Linked DNA regions of Homo sapiens. The protein of the gene in region 6 purifies or fractionates together with the protein of the main gene of each other region. This does not show direct contact. Each region holds a gene or a part of one and is shown on either strand. Other genes may lie near its edges.

Evidence for each region.
Region 1: the proteins of STK32C (region 6) and SFXN4 purify together in Homo sapiens (affinity purification with mass spectrometry; one large-scale study listed by BioGRID and IntAct). This does not show direct contact.
Region 2: the proteins of STK32C (region 6) and NUP188 purify together in Homo sapiens (affinity purification with mass spectrometry; one large-scale study listed by BioGRID and IntAct). This does not show direct contact.
Region 3: the proteins of STK32C (region 6) and GCN1 purify together in Homo sapiens (affinity purification with mass spectrometry; one large-scale study listed by BioGRID and IntAct). This does not show direct contact.
Region 4: the proteins of STK32C (region 6) and GLUD1 purify together in Homo sapiens (affinity purification with mass spectrometry; one large-scale study listed by BioGRID and IntAct). This does not show direct contact.
Region 5: the proteins of STK32C (region 6) and CDKAL1 purify together in Homo sapiens (affinity purification with mass spectrometry; one large-scale study listed by BioGRID and IntAct). This does not show direct contact.
Region 7: the proteins of STK32C (region 6) and GPAT4 purify together in Homo sapiens (affinity purification with mass spectrometry; one large-scale study listed by BioGRID and IntAct). This does not show direct contact.

What each region holds. Positions count from the first base shown.
Region 1 is NC_000010.11:119,152,215-119,155,714, reverse strand, and holds part of SFXN4 (sideroflexin-4), read left to right. Parts: intron 1-537; coding exon 538-653; intron 654-3,500. UniProt on the Homo sapiens protein: Mitochondrial amino-acid transporter. Does not act as a serine transporter: not able to mediate transport of serine into mitochondria.
Region 2 is NC_000009.12:129,003,199-129,006,698, forward strand, and holds part of NUP188 (nucleoporin NUP188), read left to right. Parts: intron 1-118; coding exon 119-256; intron 257-1,948; coding exon 1,949-2,023; exon of another isoform or gene 2,024-2,099; intron 2,100-2,104; coding exon 2,105-2,332; intron 2,333-2,446; coding exon 2,447-2,578; intron 2,579-2,851; coding exon 2,852-2,925; intron 2,926-3,040; coding exon 3,041-3,170; intron 3,171-3,281; exon of another isoform or gene 3,282-3,303; coding exon 3,304-3,480; 3' UTR 3,481-3,500. UniProt on the Homo sapiens protein: Component of the nuclear pore complex (NPC), a complex required for the trafficking across the nuclear envelope. Required for proper protein transport into the nucleus.
Region 3 is NC_000012.12:120,188,216-120,191,715, reverse strand, and holds part of GCN1 (stalled ribosome sensor GCN1), read left to right. Parts: intron 1-1,315; coding exon 1,316-1,418; intron 1,419-3,500. UniProt on the Homo sapiens protein: Ribosome collision sensor that plays a key role in the RNF14-RNF25 translation quality control pathway, a pathway that takes place when a ribosome has stalled during translation, and which promotes ubiquitination and degradation of translation factors on stalled ribosomes.
Region 4 is NC_000010.11:87,070,844-87,074,343, forward strand, and holds part of GLUD1 (glutamate dehydrogenase 1, mitochondrial isoform a precursor), read right to left. Parts: intron 1-3,500. UniProt on the Homo sapiens protein: Mitochondrial glutamate dehydrogenase that catalyzes the conversion of L-glutamate into alpha-ketoglutarate. Plays a key role in glutamine anaplerosis by producing alpha-ketoglutarate, an important intermediate in the tricarboxylic acid cycle.
Region 5 is NC_000006.12:21,195,457-21,198,956, reverse strand, and holds part of CDKAL1 (threonylcarbamoyladenosine tRNA methylthiotransferase), read right to left. Parts: intron 937-3,500; coding exon 853-936; intron 1-852. UniProt on the Homo sapiens protein: Catalyzes the methylthiolation of N6-threonylcarbamoyladenosine (t(6)A), leading to the formation of 2-methylthio-N6-threonylcarbamoyladenosine (ms(2)t(6)A) at position 37 in tRNAs that read codons beginning with adenine.
Region 6 is NC_000010.11:132,210,472-132,213,950, forward strand, and holds part of STK32C (serine/threonine-protein kinase 32C), read right to left. Parts: intron 1-3,479.
Region 7 is NC_000008.11:41,576,812-41,580,999, forward strand, and holds the start of GPAT4 (glycerol-3-phosphate acyltransferase 4 isoform 1 precursor), read left to right. Parts: upstream 1-1,388; 5' UTR 1,389-1,467; intron 1,468-1,494; exon of another isoform or gene 1,495-1,557; intron 1,558-1,704; exon of another isoform or gene 1,705-1,769; intron 1,770-4,188. UniProt on the Homo sapiens protein: Converts glycerol-3-phosphate to 1-acyl-sn-glycerol-3-phosphate (lysophosphatidic acid or LPA) by incorporating an acyl moiety at the sn-1 position of the glycerol backbone. Active against both saturated and unsaturated long-chain fatty acyl-CoAs.

The DNA.
Region 1 (3,500 bases), about 13 Mb from region 6:
TTGAGACCAGCCTGACCAACATGATGAAACCCCGTCTCTACTAAAAATACAAAAATTAGCCGGGCGTGGTGGGGCATGCCTGTAATGCCAGCTACTCTGGAGGCTGAGGCAGGAGAATTGCTTGAACCCGGGAGGCGGAGGTTGCAGTGAGCTGAGATCACACCATTGCACTCCAGCCTGGGCAACAAGAGTGAAACTCTGTCTGAAAAAAAAAACTTAAGCAAAGACGAGGGAGGAATATGTTTCCAAGATCCCAGGGTTTCTCCTAGAATCCGGTAAGGAAGCAGGGGTGCTGGAAGCTGGTCCCAGGCTGTGGTCAGGATCCAAGACTGAGTGGCCAGCAGTTCTTAGCCTACTTCCACAGCCCCAGGAGAGCACTTGGTTGGCCCAGCCTATGGCAGGTGTCCACCTGAGGGTCAAGAAAGGCCAGCTGTCAGAGAAAGAGGCTTGCAGGGGGCAGACACCCAAAGAGATGTTCCTTTGCTGGAACAAGACTCACCCCCGTCTTGGGTGTTCTTTACTTCTTTACATCTACAGTGCAAGCCAGTGGAATGAATGTCTACATGTCCCGAAGTCTTGAATCCATTAAGGGGATTGCGGTCATGGACAAGGAAGGCAATGTCCTGGGTCATTCCAGAATTGCTGGGACAAAGGTAAGAGACAGGATGAAGCTATAGCTGCTTGCCTTTTGGGCAACGACTAGACTTTTCTGTTTGAAAGCCGGTGACAAATTCATGTCTGCCTTCAACCTTTCTTTACCCGTCTTTCCTTAGCATGCTGAGAGAGAAATTTCTCATTTTGCCCCCTGATAAGATGGGGCATTAGTCTGGGTTCTCTGGAGAAACAGAACCAATGGGATATATGTACATAATCTTTCTTTCTGAGACAGGGTCTTGCTCTGTCGCACTGGCCTGGAGTGCAATGGTGCAGTCTTGGCTCACTGCAACCTCTGCCTCCCTAACACAAGCGGTCCTCCCACCTCAGCCTCTCAAGTAGCTGGGACCACAGGCACACACCACTGCACCTGGCTTATTTTTGTATTTTTAATAGAGACGGGGTTTCACCATGTTGGCCAGGCTGGTCTCGAACTCCTGGCCTCAAGTGATCCACCCACCTCGGTCTCCCAAAGTGCTAGGATTACAGGCATGAGCCACCATGCCTGGCCCCCAATTCCTTTTTGAAATCTCTCAAAAGAAAAGCATGCACCTCTGTCTCCATTGTCCCTCCCATTCACTCCTGAGTTCAAGTGATCCTCCCACCGTGGCCTCCCAAAGTGCTGGGATTACAGGTGTGCACCACCGCACCTGGGCAGTACATGTCTATTAGGAGATTTGTTCTAAGGAATTGGCTTACACAATTGTGGGAATCTGCAGGGCAGGCCTGGAGGCTGGAAACTTGGACAGGAGCTGCTGCTACAGCCTTGAGACAGAATTTCTTCTTTGGGAAACCTCAGTTTTTGCCTATAAGGCCTCTAACTGATTGGATGAGGCCCACCCACATTGTGGAGGGTAACCTTCTTTTCTTTTTTTTTTTTTTTGAGACGGAGTCTTGCCCTGTCACCCAGGCTGGAGTGCAATGGCGTGATCTCAGCTCACTGCAACCTCCGCTTCCTGGGTTCAAGCGATTCTCCTCCCTCAGCCTCCTGAGTAGCTGGGATTACAGGTGCGTACCACCACGCCCAGCCAATTTTTGTATTTTTAGTAGAGGTGGGGTTTCACCGTATTGGCCAGGCTGGTCTCAAACTCCTGACCTCAGGTGTTCCGCCCGCCTCGGCCTCCCAACGTACGGGGATTACAGGTGTGAGCCACCGCGCCTGGTGGTAACCTGCTTTTCTTAAAGTGAGCTGATTGCAGACGTGCCCTGTGTCTGCAGAGTACCCCTACAGCAACAGCTAGATGAGTGCTGGATTAAATAACTGGGTACTGTTGCCATGGTGACCCGTGAGGCTGACTGCCACAGACAGGCATCTGACAAGTGCTGGGTACCTCTGAGAGTGAGATCCTATTCTTCAAATCCAATATCTGCCCTCCCAGTGTGTGCTGATTGGGGGCCACTCCCCTCCCAGCCTGCTCTGCACTTACAGAGGTCAGTGGACACCCCTTTCTGGGGTTAAAAGAGCCCCTGCTTCTCCCATTCAGCAGATGTCCTTATAGTCTTCATTGCTAAGGACTACTTTTGTCAAGAATGGACTTAGAACATTGAATTCTCTGATCCAAAACTCCTTTTCAAGGCCTCAATTCTGAATAATTTTTACTATTAGTTTCTTCTTTTTCTTCTTCTTTCTTTTTCTTTTCTTTCTTTTTTTTTTTTTTGAGACAGGGTCTCCTTCTGTCGCTGGAGTGCAATGGTGTGATCACGGCTCTACAGCCTCAACCTCCCAGGCTCAGGTGATTCTCTCACCTCAGCCTTCCAAGTAGCTGGGATTCTAAATATGCACCACCATGCCTGGCTCATGCTTGTGCTTTTTATAGACATGGGGTTTCGCCATGTTGCCCAGTCGTGTCTCAAACTCCTGAGCTCAAGTGATCTGCCCACCTTGGCCTCCCAAAGTGCTGGGATTGCAGGGGTGAGCCACTGGGCCTGGCCAAAGTATTCTTTTGTTCAGTTCAACACAGTGACTACTGAGTGCATTCAGCCGTGAGAACCTGGTATAGTCTATGGTCTTTTCATTTTGGGTGTGGACTTTTAAAATAATATGTTTTTAGCAGGTGAGATCTTTTTTGGTCCCTGTGAAATGACTTTAGCTGAAGACTTTAGTTGTTTGCAAATGACATATCAAGCAGAGTGGAACAGCCCTGATATGAAGTGAAGGGACTAACCGGGCTTCTGGCAGTGTGGGATCCAGAGGACTCCCTTAGCCAGCCAGGGTATGTCCTTCTACTGACCAGCATGTTGGTGGCAGGGAAGCTCAGAAAAGATGGTTGTTCATTCCATCGGTAAATACGTCATTATTCAGCTCACCAAACATATTACTTTAAATCCTATCACTGACTGACAAAGCTGAATTATAAACTATCAGATACATGCTAATGGTATTTCCACTAGACCATCTAGTAGCATAGCTCCTTACCTAAATGAATTATGACAGAGATAAAATAATTATAAGTAACAGAGAAATTGCTGCCAGTAAGAAAATAGGTCACTAGTTTGAAATGAAGGTTCTGGGCCTAACAAACCACCCGTAAGTTGGATCACTTGCAGTCGGTCAGGAGTTCGAGACCAGCCTGGCCAACATGGTGAAACCCTGTGTCTACTAAAAAGGCAAAAATTAGCTGGGCATGGTGGCGGGTGCCTGTAATCCCAGCTACTCGGGAGGCTGAGGCAGGAGAATTGCCTGAACCTGAGAGGTGGAGGTTGCAGTGAGCCGAAGTCGTGCCATTGCACTCCAGCCTGGGCGACAGAACAAGACCCCATCTCAAAAATAACAAACAAACAAAAACCACCTGGGACTGCATTTGCGCTTTCCCCTGGGGAAAAAAAAAAACGCCCGAAAGAGACAT
Region 2 (3,500 bases), on a different chromosome or scaffold from region 6:
TCTTTGCCAACTCAGCATTTGGGGGCCTGGGACGTTGCCTCTCCACAGGAGGGTAGGTGTGGGTATGTCAGGTCCCTCAGCCATCCCCATCTTTCCCTGATGTGTGCTTTCCTCCCAGTGCCTCAACGCAGTGAGGACAGTGCAGAGTCTGGCCTGCCTGGAGGAGGCGGACCACACCGTGGGTTTTATTCTGCAGCTCTCTAACTTCATGAAGGAGTGGCACTTCCACCTGCCTCAGCTCATGCGTGATATCCAGGTGGGGGCCCAAGATGGTGTCTTGGAGTCTGGGGTAATGCTTGGAGACAGGGAGGCTGTGAGGTCTCACTGGGGCACTCCTAGTGAATTGCAGGATGTTCCTGAACGGGGGCTTTTCCCTTGGGGAGCACAGGGTTTGCTGTCATGTGCTTACTCTGGCTAAATGTTTCCTTCCATAGTCAAGGGCAGCCATGTAGGTTAAGAATTTGGACTTTTATCAGTTAGATCTTGGTTCAGATCCCTTAAGAATACACTTGGGGCCGGGCATGGTGGCTCACGCCTGTAATCCTAGCACTTTGGGAGGCAGTCAGGAGTTCGAGATCAGCCTGGCCAACATGGTGAAACCCTGTCTCTACTAAAAATACAAAAATTAGCTGGGCGTGGTGGCACGTGACTGTAATCCCAGCTACTCGGGAGGCTGAGTTGGGAGAATCGCTTGAACCTGGGAGGCGGAGGTTGCAGTGAGCTAGGATCGAACCATTACACTCCAGCCTGGGTGACAGAGCGAGACTCCGTCCCAAAAAGAAAAAAAAAAAAAAATGGCCGGGTGCAATAGGCTCACGCCTGTAATCCCAGCACTTTGGGAATTCAAGGCGGGAGGATCATGAGGTCAGGAGCTCGAGACCAGGCTGGCCAACATGGTGAAACCCCATCTCTACTAAAAATAACAAAAATTAGCTGGGTGTGGTGGCACACGCCTGTAGTCCCAGCTACTCAGGATCGGGAGGCTGAGGCAGGAGAATCGCTTGAACTCAGGAGGTGGAGGTTGCAGTGAGCCGAGGTCACGCCACTGCACTCCAGCCTGGTGACAAAGTGAGACTCCGTCTCAAAAAAAAAAAAAAAAAACTAAACTAAACAAAACCAAAAAAACACACACAACTGGAGCTGGGAACCAGCTGGAGAAGGGAGGGGTGAGGAAGGAACACAGGCTCCAGAGCCAGGCAGGCTTCTCTTATCTGCTGGTTGTATGACCTTGGCCAAGTCACTTGTTACTTGTAACCTTTTATTCTTTTCCTATAAAATGGAATCAGCCATAATCCTCATCTTATTTTATTTATTTATTTATTTTGAGACAGAGTTTTGCTCTGTCGCCCAGGCTGGAGTGCAGTGGTGCCATCTCGGCTCACTGCAAGCTCCGCCTCCCGGGTTCACGCCATTCTCCTGCCTCAGCCTCCCGAGTAGCTGGGACTACAGGCGCCCGCCACCACGCCCGGCTAATTTTTTGTATTTTTAGTAGAGACAGGGTTTCACCGTGTTAGCCAGGATGGTCTCGATCTGCTGACCTCGTGATGCGCCTGCCTCGACCTCAAAAGTGCTGGGATTACAGGCATGAGCCACCGCACCCGGCCTCATCTTCTTTACTTTAGGACCTTACAATATACCAGGCACCTAGCTGGGTCTCAGGGAGACAGTCCAGTCCTGAGCCCTGCTGGCCCAAGTTTGTAGCCCTGAGTACTTAGTGGCTATAGGGGCTTTAAGCTGGAAAGTGGCCAGGGGAGCATGAGGGAAGGAGGGAGAGAAGGGGAGCATGAGGGAAGGAGGGAGAGAAGGGGAGCATGAGGGAAGGAGGGAGAGAAGAGCAGCAGCGAGTGAGGAGCGCATGGGTGTTACATGGAGGGCTATTGGGTTGGTCTGGTTGGGTGACTGGGCTGCTGACAAGAGAATCCGCTCATCTCTCCTGTGTCTCTCCCAGGTCAACCTGGGTTACTTGTGCCAGGCATGTACCTCTCTCCTGCACAGTCGAAAGATGCTGCAGCATTACTTACAGGTAAGCGTCCTATGCCATGAGGTCCTGGAATACCTCACGCTAGCTTCCCAAGCTCCACCTTCATTTCTTGACTCTCCTTAGAACAAAAATGGGGATGGCCTCCCCTCAGCTGTTGCCCAGCGAGTCCAGAGGCCACCGTCTGCTGCTTCTGCTGCCCCCTCCTCCTCAAAGCAGCCCGCTGCTGACACAGAGGCATCAGAGCAGCAGGCCTTGCACACAGTCCAGTATGGCCTTCTCAAGATCCTCAGCAAGACGCTGGCAGCCCTGCGCCACTTCACCCCAGATGTCTGCCAGATTCTGCTGGATCAGGTACTGCCCATCATCTGTTCAGCACCACCTCCCCTAAAGGCTCTGCTCTGCTGTGTACCGAGAGCTACCTGGGGCCTTAATTGGGTCCTGGATGGCTCTTGTCTTTTCTCGCAGTCCCTGGACCTTGCTGAATACAACTTCCTGTTTGCCCTGAGCTTTACCACTCCCACCTTTGACTCCGAAGTGGCCCCCTCCTTCGGGACCCTTCTGGCCACAGTGAATGTGGCCCTCAACATGCTTGGAGAGGTAAGTTGGTTCTGTCAGACACTGTCCTCTCCCCCCGGCTCCTCCCCCTGCCTGCCACTTCCCAGCTGACCTTGGGCATGTTGGGCATGGTACCTAGCCTCCCAAGCCTGCTCCTCTCTGTAAACTGAACATGACAGCACCTCTGAGAATTACTGTGAGGATTAAATGAGGTAACTGATTAAATTTGCTTAGTGCAGGACATGCAAGTAGGAAGCTCTCAGTAAGTGGGAGCTGTTCCTGTTGTCTTAGTTTTTTACCCTTGCTTCTCTTCAGCTGGACAAGAAAAAGGAGCCCCTCACCCAGGCAGTGGGGCTCAGCACACAGGCAGAAGGGACCAGGACGTTAAAGTAAGTGCTCTTTCTGGGATTTGATAAGGGGCTGGGGCAGTCATGGGCCCACTGTTCTCAAGCTTGGCCAGCCTGGCCCTCTGCAGCAGTACCAAAAACCTGTGTCTCCTCCCAGGTCCCTCCTGATGTTTACCATGGAAAACTGCTTCTACCTGCTCATCTCTCAGGCGATGCGGTACCTTAGGGACCCGGCTGTGCACCCCCGGGACAAACAGCGGATGAAGCAGGAGCTCAGCTCTGAGTTGGTACGGATGGATAGGGATACGGAGGGCTGGACCAATAGGGCCAGAGCCCTGTGGGGTCCTGCCTGGCAACCCCCAAGGGTCAGAACAGTAGCCAGATGTGCTGAGCCTCACCAAGCCACTTTTTTTCTTGTAGAGCACGCTGCTGTCCAGCCTCTCGCGCTACTTCCGCCGGGGAGCCCCCAGCTCCCCTGCCACTGGTGTCCTCCCCTCGCCGCAGGGCAAGTCCACCTCTCTCTCCAAAGCCAGCCCTGAGAGTCAGGAGCCTCTGATCCAGTTGGTGCAGGCGTTTGTCCGGCATATGCAAAGATAGGGCAGTGCTGTTCTGCCCAC
Region 3 (3,500 bases), on a different chromosome or scaffold from region 6:
TATAAAAACAAAAGACATTTTAAAGTTAAAACTACATTATTTATGTAGAAGACAGTTTTGGACATCAGTTTCTTTTATTCATTGCCAATAGAATTATGGCAGGGATTTAAGCACGAAAAACTCAGCATTATTTTATTTCTGTGTGTACGCTTGACTCTTACGCTACTGATAAGGCCTGCCTTTGAAATACCCTCAAAAGAAAAACATGATAACCCCACTGTGTTAAGTTACATGAGCCTTATCATGCCCTGCTCTACGGCTTATGAATCCACAACCTGTCCACTTGGTAGCTTGTAGAATATTGCTCAAGAGCAGATTTTCAGGGATGTTTGCAAACTGCCCCCCATCACTGGGTCTTATGCTTATGTCCCTATGCAGGGGACTGCAGCTGTGGTAACTCGATGGCTGTTGAAAGCTAAAGATTTGTTAGCATCAGTTTATAGACCTGTTTGGTTTCAAAGTTAGTTTCAAAAACGCAGGTGCTGTGGCTCTCGACCCCACTCTGAGCAGTGACTTCCTCTCTTGGAGATGGTTTCTTCATCGCCTATAAAATGGGGATACTGATGCCTCCCTTGCAGGCTTTTTGGTAGTAGTAGCCAACTTTTTGCTTGGGATGAGAGTAGATGCACCTTATACGCAATCTCATTTAAGCTCCATAACAGTCATATGAGGTAGCTGCTATTGTCCGCATCTTATAGATGAGAAAACTGAAGATTGGGGGAGTGACATTATTTGACTAAGTTTCTACAGCTAGTAAAAGGCAGAGCTGGGATCCAATCTCCTAACCTTTCCCCCTTTAGCCAGTGTGCTTATCCTCTGCCAGTGAGTTGCCAGGATGCTGACATTCCCTTTATGGGGAGGTTAAAGTGAGATAATGTAAAGGGAACATAGTTGGCACGTACCAGGCCCTTGCTAGATTTTGGGTAGTTCTGAAGGGATATTTTCTTTTCAGAGGTCTTTGCCTTTCCTCTTATTGCCAAAGTTTAAATAAGGTATATTGATTTGTTGACTAGTTGAATTAAAGCAGTACATCTCAAGTGGGAGTGATTTTGCCTGCCAGGAGACATTTGACAATGTCACAACTGGGGCGGGTGGGGAAGGTGGGCTGCTACTGACATCGAGTGGGTAGAGACCTGGAATGCTGCTAAAAACACGGCCCCCACAACCAGAATTACCCGGTGCAAAATGTCACCAGTGGGGAGGTTGAGAAACCCCAGGTTAGAGAGATCCCCAAATTCTACACCCACCCCTCAACACACACACTCATAGTTTTATAGTCTGACTAGTGAATTTTTCTGTTGCTTGGCCTTCACAGGTTTCCGAGACACTAAAGCGTTTTGCAGGGAAGGTGACAACAGCCAGTGTAAAGGAACGGAGAGAAATCCTCAGTGAACTTGGGAAGTGTGTTGCTGGAAAAGGTATTTATTTTTCATCCACATACCCTGGACAATATTCATTGTTTTTCTTTCTTTCTTTTTTTTTTTTTTTTTTGAGACAGAGTCTCTCACTGTTGCCCTGGCTGAAGTGCAATGGCACGATCTCAGCTCATTGCAACCTCCACCTCCTGGGTTCAAGCGATTTTCCTGCCCTCAGCCTCCCGAGTAGCTGGGATTACAGGTGCCCATATCATGCCTGCCTAATTTTTGTATTTTTAGTAGAGATGGGGTTTCTCGAATGACAGTGTTCCATATCAAAAATAAATTTTGTGGTTTTTTTTGTGTTTTTTTCTTCTTTTTGAGACAGAGTCTCACGATGTCACCCAGGCTGGAGTGCAGTGGCACGCTCTCGGCTCACTACAACCTCTGCCTCGCTGGGTTCAGGCGATTCTCATGCCTTAGCCTCTCCAGTAGCTGGGATTACAGGTGTGCGCCACCACACCCAGCTAATTTTCGTGTTTTTAGTAGAGATGGGGTTTCACCATGTTGGCCAGGCTGGTCCTGAACTCCTGATCTTAAGTGATCCGCCTGCCTCAGCCTCTCAAAATGCCGGGGTTACAGGCACGAGCCACTGGGCCCAGCTGAAATTGCCTTTCTTTAGAACCATGGCCTTGGCCAGGCACGGTGGCTCACGCCTGTAATCCCAGCACTTTGGGAGGCTGAGGTCAACAGATCACAAGGTCAGGAGTTTGAGACCATCCTGGCCAACATGGTGAAACCCCGTCTCTATTAAAAAAAAAAGTACAAAAATTAGCCAGGTGTGGTGGTGTGCACCTGTAATCCCAGCTACTAGGGAGGCTGAGGCAGGAGAATTGCTTGAACCTGGGAGGTGGAGGTTGCAGTGAGCCGAGATTATGCCACTGCACTCTAGCCTGGGCAACAGAGTGAGACTCAAAAAAAAAAAAAAAAGCCTGGGTGTGGTGGCTCACGCCTGTAATCCCAACAGTTTGGGAGGCCGAGGCGAGTGGATCACGAGGTCAGGAGTTCGAGACCAGCCTGACCAACATGGTGAAACCCTGTCTCTACTGAAAACACAAAAATTAGCTGAGCATGGTGACGCACGCCTGTAATCCTAGCTACTCAGGAGGCTGAGGCAGGAGAATCGCTTCAACCTGGGAGGCAGTGGAGGTTGCAGTGAGCTGAGATCGTGCTACTGCACTCCAGCCTGGGCGACAGAGCAAGACTCCGTCTCAAATAAAAAAGGAACCATGGCCTTCTTCCCCCCTCCCTGCACAACTTCTGCCTTTACTTTATTTCCTTGCTATAGTGTGAATTGCAACAGTTAAAACTTTTGGGTTCATGGAGAGTTTATCCATTCAGGTGTGAAAGCTATTTACACTTTTAACCATTTTGTTTGGAAATATTTAAAAAAGATAGCTAAAACCTTTCTCAAGTAGTATACAGAGTACAAAAACTTTTTTTTTTTTTTTTGAGACGGAGTCTCACTGTGTTGCCCAGGCTGGAGTGCAGTGGCATGATCTCAGCTCACTGCACGCTCTGCTTCCCGGGTTCATATCATTCTTCTGCCTCAGCCTCTGGAGTAGCTGGGACTACAGGTGCCCACCACCACACCTGTCTAATTTTTTGTATATTTAGTAGAGACAGGGTTTCACCGTGTTAGCCAGGATGGTCTCGATCTCCTGACCTTGTGATCCTCCCAAAGTGCTGGAATTACAGGTGTGAGCCACCGCGCCCAGCCAAAAACATTTTTTTTATGACTTGGGATATCATTTTTCCCAATCTGTGTTCCGTGGAAGTCAGCACCATGGTAGTAGGTGATTGGCCAATAAAGGATTCCAAGATCAAATAAGTTGGGAGAGGTTTTTTTTTTTTTTTTTTCTTTGGTGAGACAGAGTCTCCCTCTGTCACCCAGGCTGGAGTGCTGTGGCGCGACCTCTGCTCACTGCAACCTCCGCCTCCCGGGTTCAAGTGATTCTCCTGCCTCAGCCTCCCAAGTAGCTGGGATTACAGGCACCTGCTACCACGCCCAGCTAATATTTGTATTTTTAGTAGAGATGGGGTTTCACCATGTTGGCCAGTCTGGTCTTGAACTCCTGATCTCAG
Region 4 (3,500 bases), about 45 Mb from region 6:
CCTGAGGCCGGGTGCGGTGCTCATGCCTGTAATCCTAGCACTTTGGGAGGCCGAGGTGAGTGGATCACAAGGTCAGGAGATCGAGACCATCCTGGCTAACACAGTGAAACCCTGTCTCTACTAAAAATACAAAAAATTAGCCGGGCGTGGTGGCGGGCGCCTGTAGTCCCAGCTTCTTGGGAGGCTGAGGCAGGAGAATGGCGTGAACCCGGGAGGCGGAGCTTGCAGTGAGCTGAGATCGTGCCACTACACTCCAGCCTGGGTGACACAGCAAGACTCTGTCTCAAAACAAAAACAAAAACAAAAAACAAGTAGTTCCTGAATAACAGATATATTCTTTTTGTTTTTTTTTAATTTTTATGTTTTGAGAAGGAGTTACACTCTTGCTGCCCAGGCTGGAGTACAATGGCATGATCTCGGCTCACTGCAACCTCCGCCTTCCAGGTTCAAGCAATTCTCCTGCCTCAGCCTCCTGAGTAGCTGGGATTACAGGTACCTGCCTGGCTAATTTTTTTTTATTTTTAGTAGAGACGGGGTTTTACCATGTTGGCCAGGCTGGTCTCGAACTCCTGACCTCAGGTGATCCACCCGCCTCAGCCTCCCAAAGTGCTGGGATTACAGGCATGAGCCACCATGCTTGGCCTAACAGATAAATTCTTATATAGAGAACAGGTATGAGGCAGAAGTTAATCTTTTTTAAAAAAGCAACTTTTCTAACAGCATGTGACTATAGAGTAGGAGATGAAAGGGTAATTTTGGTACACAGAGATATAAGGGGATGAGAAGGGTGGAGACATCAGGGTCCTGCAGAACTTAGGTGATATTTACACTCACACAAGAGAATGAACATTGACCTTTCAAAAGCTTTTCCAAAAGCAGAAGAGGAAGGAACACTCCTCAACTCATTCCATGAGGCTAGAATTGTCCTGATACAAAGACTAGACAAAGACATCATAAGAAAACTATAGACCAATGTCACTTACAATAGCATTAAAAGGAGTAAAATATTTAGTTGTAAGACTTCTATGTAAGACTTCTACAATGAGAACTACAAAACATCATTGAAAGAAATCAAGAGACCTAAATAAATGGAAAGACATCTCATATTCAGCATTGGAAGGCTTAATATGGTTAAGATGGCAATACTGGTCAGGTGCAGTGGCTCATGCCTATAATCCCAGAATTTTGGGAAGCTGAGGTGGGAAGACTGCTTGAGCTCAGGAGTTTGAGACCAGTCTGGGATACGTGATGAGACCGTGTCTCCACAAAAAATTAAAAAATTAGCTAGGCACAGTTGCACACCCCTGTGGTTCTAGCTACTTGGGAGGGTGAGGTGAGAGGATTGCTTGAGCCCAGGAGGTCAAGGTTGCAGTGACTGCTGTCTGGTACTCCAGCCTGGGTGAAAGGACAAAACCTTTTTGGGGAGGGTGGGGAAGATGGCAATACTCCACAAATTAGTGTACAGATTCAATGAAATTCCTATAAAAATCCCAGCCTCTTTTTTTCTTTTGTTTTGCAGAAATTTACAAGCTGATGCTAAACACACATGTGACAGGATCAGGGTTCAGGCTCAGGTCTGAGCCTCAATCTGACACTCTCTGTGGAATGGGCAGTCAGGAAATAACAGATAAATAACATCAAATTTGAAGGTTTGCCGAGGAGTGAGAGAAAAAACTCCCTTTGCCTACCTCCTAGGCTTCAAAGCTTTCTGGGCCAAGACGTCAATTTAACTGCATCCTGGGTCAATGAGGCTTTTGCACATTAAGCAAATAAATCAAATTACTAGAGTTTAAGCTGTGTTTTCTTTCAGTATTCCAATGAATCACTTTTTGACCTTTGGAATTATTAGGTACTTGTCAAGTCTGATAAAATTAAGCTGGAGATATTGCAGATATGGGTGACAAATATGACTGAATAAAGTCTGAAACCATTCAAGACTATAAAATGTGTTTGAGATTTAGGGGAAGAGGAAAGACCTTTTAAAAATTATGAAGGCTATTAACAGGCTGAAGATGACTTCAATTCACCATATCTCAGAATCAGTAGGCACTCCTATAAAAGTGTGAGCGAGATAGTTAACTCATATTAACTTACGTTAACAGACTCCATGTAAGGATGCACAAGTTCACAGTAGTGCTGGGTATGCGGCACATCAAAGGCCCAAATGCCTTTTATTATCAAAGACAGGCCAAATCTAGTCAAGTTTTAGAGTTACCTATACTTACTGTATTTCTATATTAGGTTATTTCATGACATTTATTTCATGACTTTTTTTTCCTAAAAATGAATCCGAATAGCTTTATTTCATTTCTCTTTCTTCTTGAGATGTGGTCTCGTTTTGTTGCTCAGGCCAGAGTGTGGCAGGCCAGAGTGCAGTGGCACAATCATAGCTCACTGCAGCCTCAACCCCCCAGGCTTAAGGGATCCTCCCATCTTAGTAGTTGGGACCACAGGCATGCACCATCACGCTTGGATAATGTTTTCATTTTTTGTAGAGATGGGGTCTTGTAATATTGCCCAGGGTGGTCTCGAACTTCTGGGCTCAAGTGATCCTCCCACCTCAGCCTCCAAAAATGCTGGGATTACAAGCACCAGCCACCATGCCCAGCCTTTATAGTTTAATTTCATGGGAACTTGTGGGGGAAATGCTAAGAAAGGAAAGTAGAGAAAAATACACTTTATTTTCTATTTAAGTAGACCTTATTTTGTTTAACTATACTGATATTGATAGGACAAGTATTCTATTATTAAGTAACAATTAACATTCTTTTTTTTTTTTTTTTTTTTTTTTTTGAGACGGAGTCTCGCTCTGTTGCCCAGGCTGGGGTGTAGTGGCGTGATCTTGGCTCACTGGAAGCTCTGCTTCCCAGGTTCACACCATTCTCCTGTCTCAGCCTCCTGAGTAGCTGGGACTACAGGCACTCGCGACCACGCCTGGCAAATTTTTTGTGTTTTTAGTAGAGATGGGATTCCTACTAAACCCCGTTAGCCAGAATGGTCTCGATCTGACCTCGTGATCCACCTGCCTCGGCCTCTCAAAGTGCTGGGATTACAGGTGTGAGCCACCACGCTCGGCAGTAAGTATTAACATTCTATTAACTATACTGATAGGGCAAGCATTCTATTAAGTAGTTATGCATATTCTATTCAAACAAATTAGAAGCCTTCTAGATTAAAAAAAATATAGGTTTAAACTGCTTGAAAATTAAAGGGTACATGACAAATACTTACATATCATAAAAAGAATATTCAGATTGTGCACAAAGAAAATATAAACACAGATAATAGTAAGATACAAAAACATCAAGCAAACAAAGATTAATATCTTCAGAAATGTTGTATGTTTGGCAAAAGCTCCTATAACAAATAGTAGGAGGCCGGGCACAGTGGCTCCTATCTGTAATACCAGCAGTTTGGGAGTCCGAGATGGGTGGATCACCTGATGTCAGGAGTTCAAGCCCAGCCTGACCAACATGGCAAAGCCCCATCTCCAGTAAAAA
Region 5 (3,500 bases), on a different chromosome or scaffold from region 6:
TAAGATGGGAGAGGAGGGCGTATCCCATCTCTTCCCTGGCCTTGGCCCTTGCCAGGGTCAATGACCCTGAAAGAGGCACTCTCTTTTCCTCAGTCACTTTTGAATTGCTCTCCCACCTGGAGGAGTAGAAACCCTGATGCTGAAACAGAAGTCAGGCTCCTCGGTGGGCAAAGGCAGGCCAACTTAGATGGCCAGGGAAGGAGGGCTAGTAATTGGGGGCGCCCCTAGGGATGGCCTTCAAAGCTCTCACAGTGAAGCTGGTTTGATCCTCACACTGGTCTGCACAGTTGTTCATACAATTAGAGTTGAGTCCAAGGAATAGACTCCTTTTCCTCTGCTCCCAGCATTTTTATTAAGGTAGAAGTTAAAAAAACAGATGCTAAAACTAAACAAAACTAAAAAACCAACCAACCAACCAACCAATCAACCAACCAACTAAAAAAACTGTCCGGGTGATGTACCAGCGAGAGGAAATCCCTGCCCTTTCATGCTGCTGTCGCCCATGCAGACATCCTTCCTGTGGTCTGAGCAGGACTTTCCCCCCTGCTTTGCCAGGGTGTGGGAATTCTGGCAGTGCTAATTGCCTGGTTCCAAACGCCCAAAAGCCTAAAGCTGGTCCTGTCAAAGATTAATGTGAACTAAAATAGACTAAATACACCTATTCCTTTGTACAGAACATATTGTAGAGTAAGTCACAAAGATAAAGTCCATGTTAGCCTGGCTGGCTTGAAGCGATAAAACAGCCTTGTTGTGACAAGATTCAACACTCTCCCCTTTAAATGCCCTTTGCTTAAACTTTCAGAACTCTTTCTCACTTTGGAGAAAACTCAAGAATACTGAAGTGCCTCTTACCTGCTCATAGAATTGATTGTGTGCAACATAAAACTTGGAATCAAAAGATTCTTCTGTTACTAACACTTGTTGTCTTTCACCAATCTGTGGAGAGAAGGGGAGGGAAAGAAAGGAAAGATAAGGGTAAACACCTGTGAATCCAAAAATAAAAATAAAGGCTAGCCCAGGTAGGTCTGGACCAAGTAGCGTCTTCTTGAATTTAAAGTAGACTCTACATTGCTGGTTATTTAACAGCGAACCCTGTTCAAATCACGGATTCAAATTTTTTGAAAGACATTAATTATCTGGCAACATAAAATTAGCATAGTATAAACTCTTATTTTCTTACATAACTCTGAAACAGAATTTGATCTCCTTCAACATAAGTAAGATAATTAAAGCTTCTATGACATACAAAAATCTTCTAAATATCACTTTGTTTCCTGAAACAAAGTTGCAAAACAAGCCAGAACAAGCTGCTTCTAATCCAAATTCATGAAAATATTTTGGCAATATGAAAGAATAGTAATAAACATTCATTTGAGTTATGAGGGATGTAACACTAAAGAAAATGCCTCGGAAAACTAGTCATTAGGACCTTGCACCTCCACATTTCATATCTTACATACAATTCTGAAAGTACTGAGTAATTCACAGAGCTATTTACTTATTATATACATTTTCTCTGTCACAGGCAACTGTCTCTTTGCTGCAGTCATGACCCCATGTTCATTTATTATTTTTTAAAGAGAAAGACAGCAAAAACATGGAATTGCTAATTTTCCACAGAATTGATGTACATTATGATCTAGGCACCCATTTTTAATAGCAAAGAAGTAAATCAGCCAAAACAATGGGTAAAGAAGTGTGACTATTCTAAGGAAATTCTATAATTTCCAAGTTTATTCTACTGTGAAATGCAGCACTTAAGGTATCAAGTATTATTATTATTATTATTTTTTTTTTTTGAGACAGAGTCTCACTCTGTCACCCAGGCTAGAGTTCAGTGGCATGATCTTGGCTCACTGCAAATTCCGCCTCCCGGGTTCAAACGATTCTTCTGCCTCAGCCTCCCGAGTAGCTGGGATTACAGGCATGCGCCACTATGCCCGGCTAATTTTTATATTTTTAGTAGAGACGGGGTTTTGCCATGTTGGCCAGGCTGGTCTCGAACTCCTGACCTCAGGTGATCCGCCTGCCTCGGCATCCCAAAGTGCTGGGATTTCAGGCATGAGCCACCATGCCTGGACTCAGTTACTCTTTTTACAAGGTTGTCAAAATGTCTGATACAGCAAAACAACTGTACTGAATGACTGTGCCGGGGATTATTTTTACCAATGCTACTTAATAATTATGACCCCCCCAAATTAAAGCCCACTGGCAAGATAATTTTTTAAAATTCCTATTCTCATTTGTAGGGACTTGTCACCATGTTCAGGCGGTTACCATGAAGGAAACATAAACACAGCTGCACTAAATAGACCACCTAACAATTAAAAAACAAATCAAACTCCCCTCTCTATCATACAATGCCAGTACCTAAATACACCATAATTTACTATCTAGTTTACTATCTCATTCAAAATATAGCCCTCTTAGCCAAAAGTTGTAAGGTCTCTGAGATGACACTTACTAAAGACTCTTTTCACTGTCTGAAAAACAATGGAAGTTCTGGCAACATTAATCCCCTTAAAAAAATCAAGTGTAAAAAAAGAAATTTCCCCCAACTTCCATGTTGAGCTTCAATGGCTCTGTTTATCAAAAAGGGCTGGTGAATATTGGGTATCACTGAAGTATATTCTTCTAGAAGAAAACTTAGAATGTTTGCACACATTTCACAGTGTGAGTTGCTTATGACTTAGGATAAGTATCTGTCAATGGTTCTTAAGGAAATCTGCAATTACACTTCATTTAACATCAAGTTTTCAGGAAATTAACAACAATGTGAAATTGTAGAGCCACTGAAAACTATGCTGCTTCTTTCTTCTTCTTAGAATCAACGTGGAGAGTAAGGCCCATCATGTTTGGGCTGCTCTATTTCATCTGGAGATGATAACAATGACAGTAATATATACAGAGTTAAAAAGACTTGCTATGTTTATATAGTAGAAAGCTGGGCTTTTAATCAACCATAAGAGAACTATTTGTAGGTGAGTATTTAACTATTATTTGCCAAAGAGACTCAGGAGAACCGCAATGTGCACTAATTCATAGTGGCAAACACCTTTTCAGTCATCCTATTTGTGTCCTCAACTGAGGAGTCATCCTATTTGTGTCCCCAGTCTCATTGGCAAGGCCCTTAAAAATCTCCAGAGTGGCCGGGCCCGGTGGCTCATGCCTGTAATCCCAGCACTTTGGGAGGCAGAGGTGGGCAGATCACTTGAGTCCAGGAGTTTGAGACCGCCTGGGTAACATGGCAAAACCCCGTCTCTATAAAAAATACAGAAATTAGCCGAGTGTGGTGGTGTGTGCCTATAGTCCCAGCTACACGAGAGGCTGAAGTGGAAGGATTGCTTGGGCCTGGCAGATTGAGGGTGCAGTGAGTTGTGATCATTCTACTGCATTCCAGCATTGGTGACTGAATAAGACCCTGTCTCAAATAAATAAATAAATAAATAAATAAATAAATAAATAAATAAATAAATAAAAAAAACATCTCCAGAGGCCAG
Region 6 (3,479 bases):
TCCTGACCTCAGGTGCTCCGCCTGCTTCGGCCTCCCAAAGTGCTGAGATTACAGGCGTGAGCCACCATGCCTGGCCCTGTGGATCCTATTAATGCTGATTGCCAAGTGGCAAGTACTCTGGACACCCTGTAAACCCACGAACAGAGTGTGGGAGATGCAGAAGGCTGTTCTCCGATGAACGGTTCAGGGATTTGCTGACGTGCGTCACACTCGGACGTGCCCGCCAAGATAAAGGACAAGCGGTCTCACCTTGCGCCTCTTCCCACGAGGAAGGAAGCATAGGGCTCAACACATTTCTTGGGTTTGGGGAGCAGCTCACGTTCCCCACCCCGAGGCAGTGCCCTCCGTGTCTCTCCTGGATCTGTGGTGGTGTGAGGGTTTCACCCTGGCAGCGGGAATGTGGACTCTCTCTTCCTAGCCCTGAGTGGGGACTGTCCCGCCCGCTCCTCCTGGTGGTGTCACCCTGGTCCTGGGCATTCCCCACACGTACACGGTGTGAGCGGCCAGCACCTTGCCAAGGACTCGAGAAGAAGCCGGCAGACTCCCACGCTCTCTGCGGGCAGCCCTCTCCTCTCCATGTGGCTCTCTCCCTCCAGGCTTTGCCCTGTCACTGTGGCCTCCCCTAAAGGAGTCACGATCCTGGCAGGGGACCTGTCCTTAGTCATCAAGAAGAGGACAGGCTGGGTGATCTGCTGTGTCTCAGCACTCTCTGGTCTAACCCTGATATAGACAGACAAGTCTGCAAACTCGGGCCGGCCTGAGAAGGTGACGGTGACCTAAGGCTCAGACTACTCAGGAATGAGGGTCCGACTGAGCCGCTGGGATCCTGCGATTCACAGCGACACAAGGTGGGAGGGGCTGGGGTGGGCGCCAGTGATGCAGAACATGAGCGCCCGTCGTGGCCCTGTGTGCAGCCCAGTGGCAGGGGCTGTTGGTCATCCTGCAACGTCCACAGCCATGTTTTCCTAGGCAGAGAGGCCACCAGAAGCCTGAGGAGCTGCTCCAGAACCATCTGGAAGGGGTGGCTCTGAGCAGCGCCCAAGCCGGGCTGTGTCACCTAGATGTGTGACCACGACCCCTTTCCACAGGGACTCCCTTCCCAAGGTGTGTGTAGCGCCGCCAGCAGTACCCCATGGCAGGGTCTGTGCCTGGCCTGGATCTGCCCTGCTCTTCCTCTGACAGCCCCTGCCTCCTCCTTGGGTGGCTGGAACCCTTTGCCAGCACACACACAGTCAGAAGGCCACAGAGGGGCCCTTCGCCCATGACTGACTGGTGTGGGTGTTTGAGAGCCCAGCTCCCTCAGGGCAGGGACCTCTTGAACCGCAAGTGACGCTCCAGGTCCCCTGAAGTCCGAAGCCACTCCCCACAGGATTTCCAGATTTCTGCTTGAAAGCCAAGCTCTGCTGGCATCTCCCATCCCGAGAAGGGCGGGGGTCTCTCCTGGATGCACTTTCTGAGTAACTGGACCAGGAATCCCCATCTCAGGGCACCTGTGGCACCTTCACACATGCTGAGACACAGCCTCGGACCCCAGATGTCACCCACAGCGAGGAGGGGCCTGGGAAATGGAGCAGGCTTCAGTCCCTAGCACCGCCACAAACCTGCTTGGCAGCTCAGATGCAACTGTCAGACCCCTCAGCATTCAGTGGAAATGCCAGGGACCCAGAACAGTCAAATAATGTCCAAAAAGAACAAAACTGGGGGATTCACAGATCCTGATTTGAAAGCTTGCTACAAAGCTACAGTTATCAAGATGGTGCAGTCCCGGCGCAGGGCAGACGTCTGGACCAATGGGATAAAACGGCAAGTCAAAAAACAAGGTATGATGTCAAAAGCAATTCAATGGGGAAAGAATCCTCTCTTCAGCAAATGGTGCTAGGACAGTCAGATATCCACCGATGAGAGAATGAAGCTGGACCCTCACCTGACATTGTTCATAAAAATTAACCCAAAATGAATCACACAGCTAAACGCAAGAGCTGAAACTATACAAGACTTAGAAGAAAGTGTGGGAGTAAATCCCTGTGGCCTCAGCTGAGGTGATGGATCCTTAGACAAAGCAGAGCAGCCAAGGAGGAAACAGCCACATCGGACAACGTCAAGGTCCAAGACTTCCCTGCTGCAAATGATGCCCTCAAGAAAGAGAAAAGATAGCCCATGGAACAGGAGGAAATACCTGCCAATCTCCTGTCTGACCACACACCTGCGTTCAGGAAATAAAAGACATGACTCCGACGAAGAAACACAGAGACGAGCAAGGACTTCTGGCTTCTGCTCTGCGGTAAACAACGTGGAAGGCCTCACTCCCATCCCTGCGACAGGAAAAATGCTGAACTAATGAAAATCAATGACTTTTCCTGGACCTATCAGAGAGCTGAGGTCAAAGCGCTGCGGCGACCCCCAAGTCTGGAGAGACAGGTGAGCAAAGTCACAGCTGAGACCTGCTGGCCTGGAGCAGAACTGATGGTGTGTGGGAACACCTCCTGGGCAGCTCTGGGGAGCGGCCGGGGCCGTGTGCAGAACTCCTGCGGCTGCGGTCTTATGAGGCCCCCAACGTTTTGTGGGTTTCCCCTCCAGGAACCCTGCCAGGTCTTAATGAAGCCAAGGATGATCCCTTCCTGGCTCTGGCATGGGATGGGGACAGTCACCACTGTGAAATACACCCAGAGCATTCTCCACAGCAAATGGAATTTGCTCTCCAAAGGAAAGGCTTATCTCACTTGGGGGAGGACTGTTTTTCAGCCTGTACCCCGCTTTAGCCTGTCTCACCTAAGGGGAGGGGAAAAGCAGATCAACAACTGTGAAGGGGCACAGGCCCCCAAGACTGAGATTTGGTCACAGACTGTGGAACAGTTCCCTCCCCACCATCTTCCCAACACACCCACAGGGCCTCCGCAGTGTGACAGGGATTCCAGCAGAGAGGGCCACAAGACGCAGACTCTCTCTGAGGAGGAGGATTTAGGCAAGCCCAAGGGCAACCCGGGAAATGAAAACAAATGTGAAGCCTCTGGTGCCCACAGCTACAGCAGACTTTAAACCCTGCCCCAAACCTGGCCAGATTACATAAACCTCACACTAAAGGCCCATCTACTTCAGCTCTTATTACCAGATACATCACGTCCAGCTTTCAACAAACATTACAAGGCAGACTACAAGGTCTTAAGGAAAAAAATAGAGTGTGAAGAGACAATGCACACATTAGAACAGATCCAGATATGGCACCCATGTTGGAATTATCAAACAGGAAATTTGAAATAACTGTGATTAATATGGCAAGGGCTCCAGGGGAAAAGCAGGCAAGAACAGATGGGGAACAGAAGGGCAATGTAAGTAGAGAGATGGAAACTCCAAGGAGGGATCAAAAGGAAATGCTGGAAGTAGAAAACACTGTAACAGAAATGAGGATGCCTTTGATGGTTCCTCAGTAGACTGGATCCAGATGAGGAAGGATCTATGAGCTTGAAGAAATGTCAACAGAA
Region 7 (4,188 bases), on a different chromosome or scaffold from region 6:
TTTTTTTTTTTTTTTTTGAGTTTGGGTCTCGCTCTGTCACACAGGCTGGAGTATAGTGCCACAATCTCAGTTCACTGCAACATCTGCCTCCTGGGTTCATGCAATTCTCCTGTCTCAGCCTCCCGAGTAGCTGGGATTACAGGTGCGTGCCATCACCCCCGGCTAAATTTTGTATTTTTAGTAGAGACGGGGTTTCACCATGTTGGCCAGGCTGGTCTCAAACTCCTGGCCTTAAGTGATCTGTCCGCCTCTGCCTCCCAAAGTGCTGGGATTACAGGCGTGAGCTACCCGCGCCCCGCTCCCCCCACCATTTTTTTTTAATTTTCAAAATTTTTGTAGAAGTGGGGGTCTCGTTACGTTGCCCCGGCTAGTCTCAAACTCCTGGCCTCAAGCGATCCTCCTGCTTTGGCCTCCCAAAACGCTGGGATTACTGGCGTGAACTACCATACTCTGCCCTTTATTCTTACAGAGATTTTGAGGTCTAAGAATGTGGACTTTAAAGATTTCATTATCAGATTATGCATTTAGCACGGAATGACAATCTGACAGCCGTGTACAGCGTAAACCGGCGGAGAGGGCTTGGCACTAAAGGCAAACTGTCTTTTAAGAACAGGAAAAAGAAAGGTAATATATATTTTAAGGAGGTCCCATTTTAGGGGAGATAATAAGCTTGGGTTAGGCGTCCGAAGTCAGAAGATATAGTAAGAAACACACACGCAAACTCCAGCAGCCACCAGCTAGACTTGAGTAGAGAGAGCAGGTCCAAGTGGAGGTGGAAGTTGGAAAGTTGCATCTGCCAGGCAGGGCGAAAGTGGCCTACACCCACTCCTGGAGCACCCTGCTTGACGAGCAAGGTAGACGAGGCTGAGGGATACTGCTGGTGATGACGGTGGTCGTGGTGATGGTGCTGGTAGCTAACAGATCTTGAGCGTACCAGGCCCTGAGCTGAGTCCTCTAACGGGCAGAATGTCGCTGCATACGGACAGCAGCCTCAAGAGGACAAGGTGATTTAGTGACTCTAGCCTCTTCCCGCGGTGCCAGCCTGATTTCACCCTCTCCGGAACACACAAGCGAACCTCCGGGGAGGGAGCCAGTATCGGGTCCTAACGCAGGGAAGCGCTCCGCTTTCTGAGAGGGACGCGCCAGCGGAGGGACAGCCAGGGCCCGGCCTCTCCTGCTCCTGCCCCGCCCCGCCCCCGGCAGTGCCCCCTAGTCCGCCAGAGGGCGACTCCGCGGGTCGCCCAACCCGCGACCGGTCCACGCGGCACCCGCCTCTCCCTAGGCCCCCGCCCTGCCGGCCCGCGCGCGCCCGACGGGAGCGTGCGGGGCGGTGGGCGCAGGGTCACGTTGGGCGGCGCAGACAAAGGCGGGCGCGCGCACGTCCTGACGCAGCTTGGGCCCGCGGCGGCGGCAAGGGCGGGAGGGAGCGGTCGCCGCGGGATTTGGAGCTGCCTAGCCTCGCGGTCGGTGAGTAGGAGGGAGCTGGCCCCTTACCTCAAAGTCTCCGACCTCCGGGGAGCCGAGAGCGGGACGTGGGAGCCGGGCTTGGGCGGCCGCGCGGGGCCTGCGGTCTGGGACGCCCCGGCGACGCTGCGCCGGCGTCAGGAGGCACCATCGCCGCGCCCCGGGGATCCCCGGCGGGTGGAGCGGGTGCCCCCCGTCCGGGATGGAACGGTCCGCGCCCGCCCCGAACCCCGGCCGCCCGCCTCTCCGCTCGCCTGCTCTCCGAGCCCGGCTCCTCGGAGCCCCTCGCCTCCCCCAAGTCCCAGGTGTGCGCAGCCCTCCCGCCCCGGGAGTCCGGGGATGTGGGTGGCGAGGGCTGCTGGGCGTTGGAGCACCAGGAAGCGCCTTCCCCTGTCATTCCCCTTCCTGTGTTCTCTGGCTGCCGTAAGATGCATGTCTTTACCCTCTCCTTCTCCAAATGCATGCTCCCATTTTTCTTTAGGATTTCTTAACTCCTGAAATCCCTTGCCTTTCCTTTTTTATTTCAGCACCCTCTGAGGCATCCTTCTCCCAGTGGGGCTTGTTTATTTCCTCGCTTTCCATGTCACAGAGGGCTGAAGTTTAGCTGTTCAGAAGTTGCAGAAAATAGCTTATAGGAGACATACGGTGTAGCACGATGGAAATAAGTTCCATCCTCTGCCAAGTATTACCATGGATCTTCTCATGGATAACCTTGAGGTCATTTGAGGAATTTTGTTTTTGGTTCATTTTCCTTAATTTTGGCTGAACTTTGAGGAGCTCTCCTTAGTTTCATGTCTTGTAGATTCTATCTCAATCCAAGGGAAATGGTGTGAAGAGCAGTTATACCATACCAAAGTCTCCAGACAAAATCCTGTAATAATGCCAATCAAATATACTTCTCTCTTTGAAAGAGATGTGCTTTTCTTTTCTTTTTTAACTTTGTATTTTGGAGAATTTCAGACACAGGGAAATAGATGGAATAGGGAACCAGCATGTACTTGTTCTGGCCTCCTCAGCCACTTAACTGTGGCTATTCCTGTGCCATACACACCCCACCCATTTCCCCTCCCGTATGTCTCAGGGAGAACTTGATGCAAGATGAGTCTGTCAAAAGTAGCTTCAGTTCCATAATGAAAACCACCATACCAAGTCATAAGGTGCTTTTTGTTTTGGAACACAGCCTACTCATGAGGTCTTCAGCTAAGAAACACAGTAGAGTTGAAGAAAGAGCACAGCAAAAGGTATCTTAACATGATAGAACAGGTTAAAAGAAAAAGTATGGCCGGGCGTGGTGACTCACGCCGGTAATCCCAGCACTTTGGGAGGCCGAGGCGGGCGGATCACCTAAAGTCAGGAGTTCAAGACCAGCCTGGCCAACATGGTGAAACCCTGCATATACTAAAAATACAAAAATTAGCCGGACGTGGTGGCAAGTACTTGTATTCCCAGCTACTCGGGAGGCTGAGGCCGGAGAATCGCTTGAACCCAGGAGGCAGAGGTTGCAGTGAGCCAAGATTGCGCCGCTGCACTCCAGCCTGGGCGACAGAGCGAGACTCGTGTCAAAAAAAAAAAGAAAAGAAAAAAAGTGTTTCAGATCTGGATGAGAACATTCGGAACGTCCTGTTCAATGTTTTCATTTTTTTCTGAGCCCTTGGAGGTCCAGAGAAGTTCAGTGACTTGTCCAGAGCTGCAGGTCTTAAGAGGCTGAAATCTCGCCTCTGCCTCGAGGCTGCGGTTCCACTGACCCATACTACTTGCCTTCAGGAAAGAGAAATGGTGTAGGAAGGCTGTGGATGAAGACGCTTACATTCATGAAGGATTTGGATAGGCGAACATGAGCTTTTCCACCAAATTTCAGAATTTTAAGAAATGCCTTAAATTATTTCTTAAAAATCAATTTGGGGCAGACGAGAAGTTCTGATAATAGTTTTTAGGGAACATGATAAAATTCTGACCTTAGAAGTGGTATACCAGTTTGAGAAGAAGAACAAGCTATAAACGGTGTAGATAACATTCACGGCTATTTAAGAAAGAGTTACTAAGGGAAACCAGAATGACTTAAGAGTGTTACTCTTCTTTTTCTGAGAGAACAATAGCATCATCTCAGAAAGCCTTTCATGCCATTAATAGGTAAGAATCTGGGCTTCTTGGACCATGGGTTAGACTTTCTTACAAAACCATAATATGCATTTCCTAGCAAAATTTATGCTATTACATTTCCTTATCTCAACAAAGACTGGTAAATTCAGTACTTATTCCTCAATTTTCCTACCCTTAAAATGGGGATATTCTGCCTCTCCAAGGAATGCTGGGAACAAGCAAGTCCTCATGTTAGGGGTCTTTGAGTTTTCATGGAAGTTTAGGTTATTTATATGATGACATAGTTGTCAACTTACTTTCAGGATGGACTTTTCTTTTGTGAGTTTGTGACCTAAATACAATAGTTGTTATGCATGTCCAGTTTATGGAAGTACCACTGCAATAACAGCATTTGAGTGTCATGGTAAATCATTACCCCTAAAGATAGAGGAGGGAGGAGGAGGCAACTGTTGTGTGTCTATTTTGTGTTTGGTGTGAGGAGTGTTGTGGCTAGGCTCTTCAGAGGCTAGCCTAACTTGCTAAGTGGTTTCTGCTAAAGAAAAACCCACTTTTCTTGTGTGTGCTTGTCACCACAAGTTAGCTTTTATTAAAAACAAAACAAAACTCTCTAAGCTATCTGGAGAT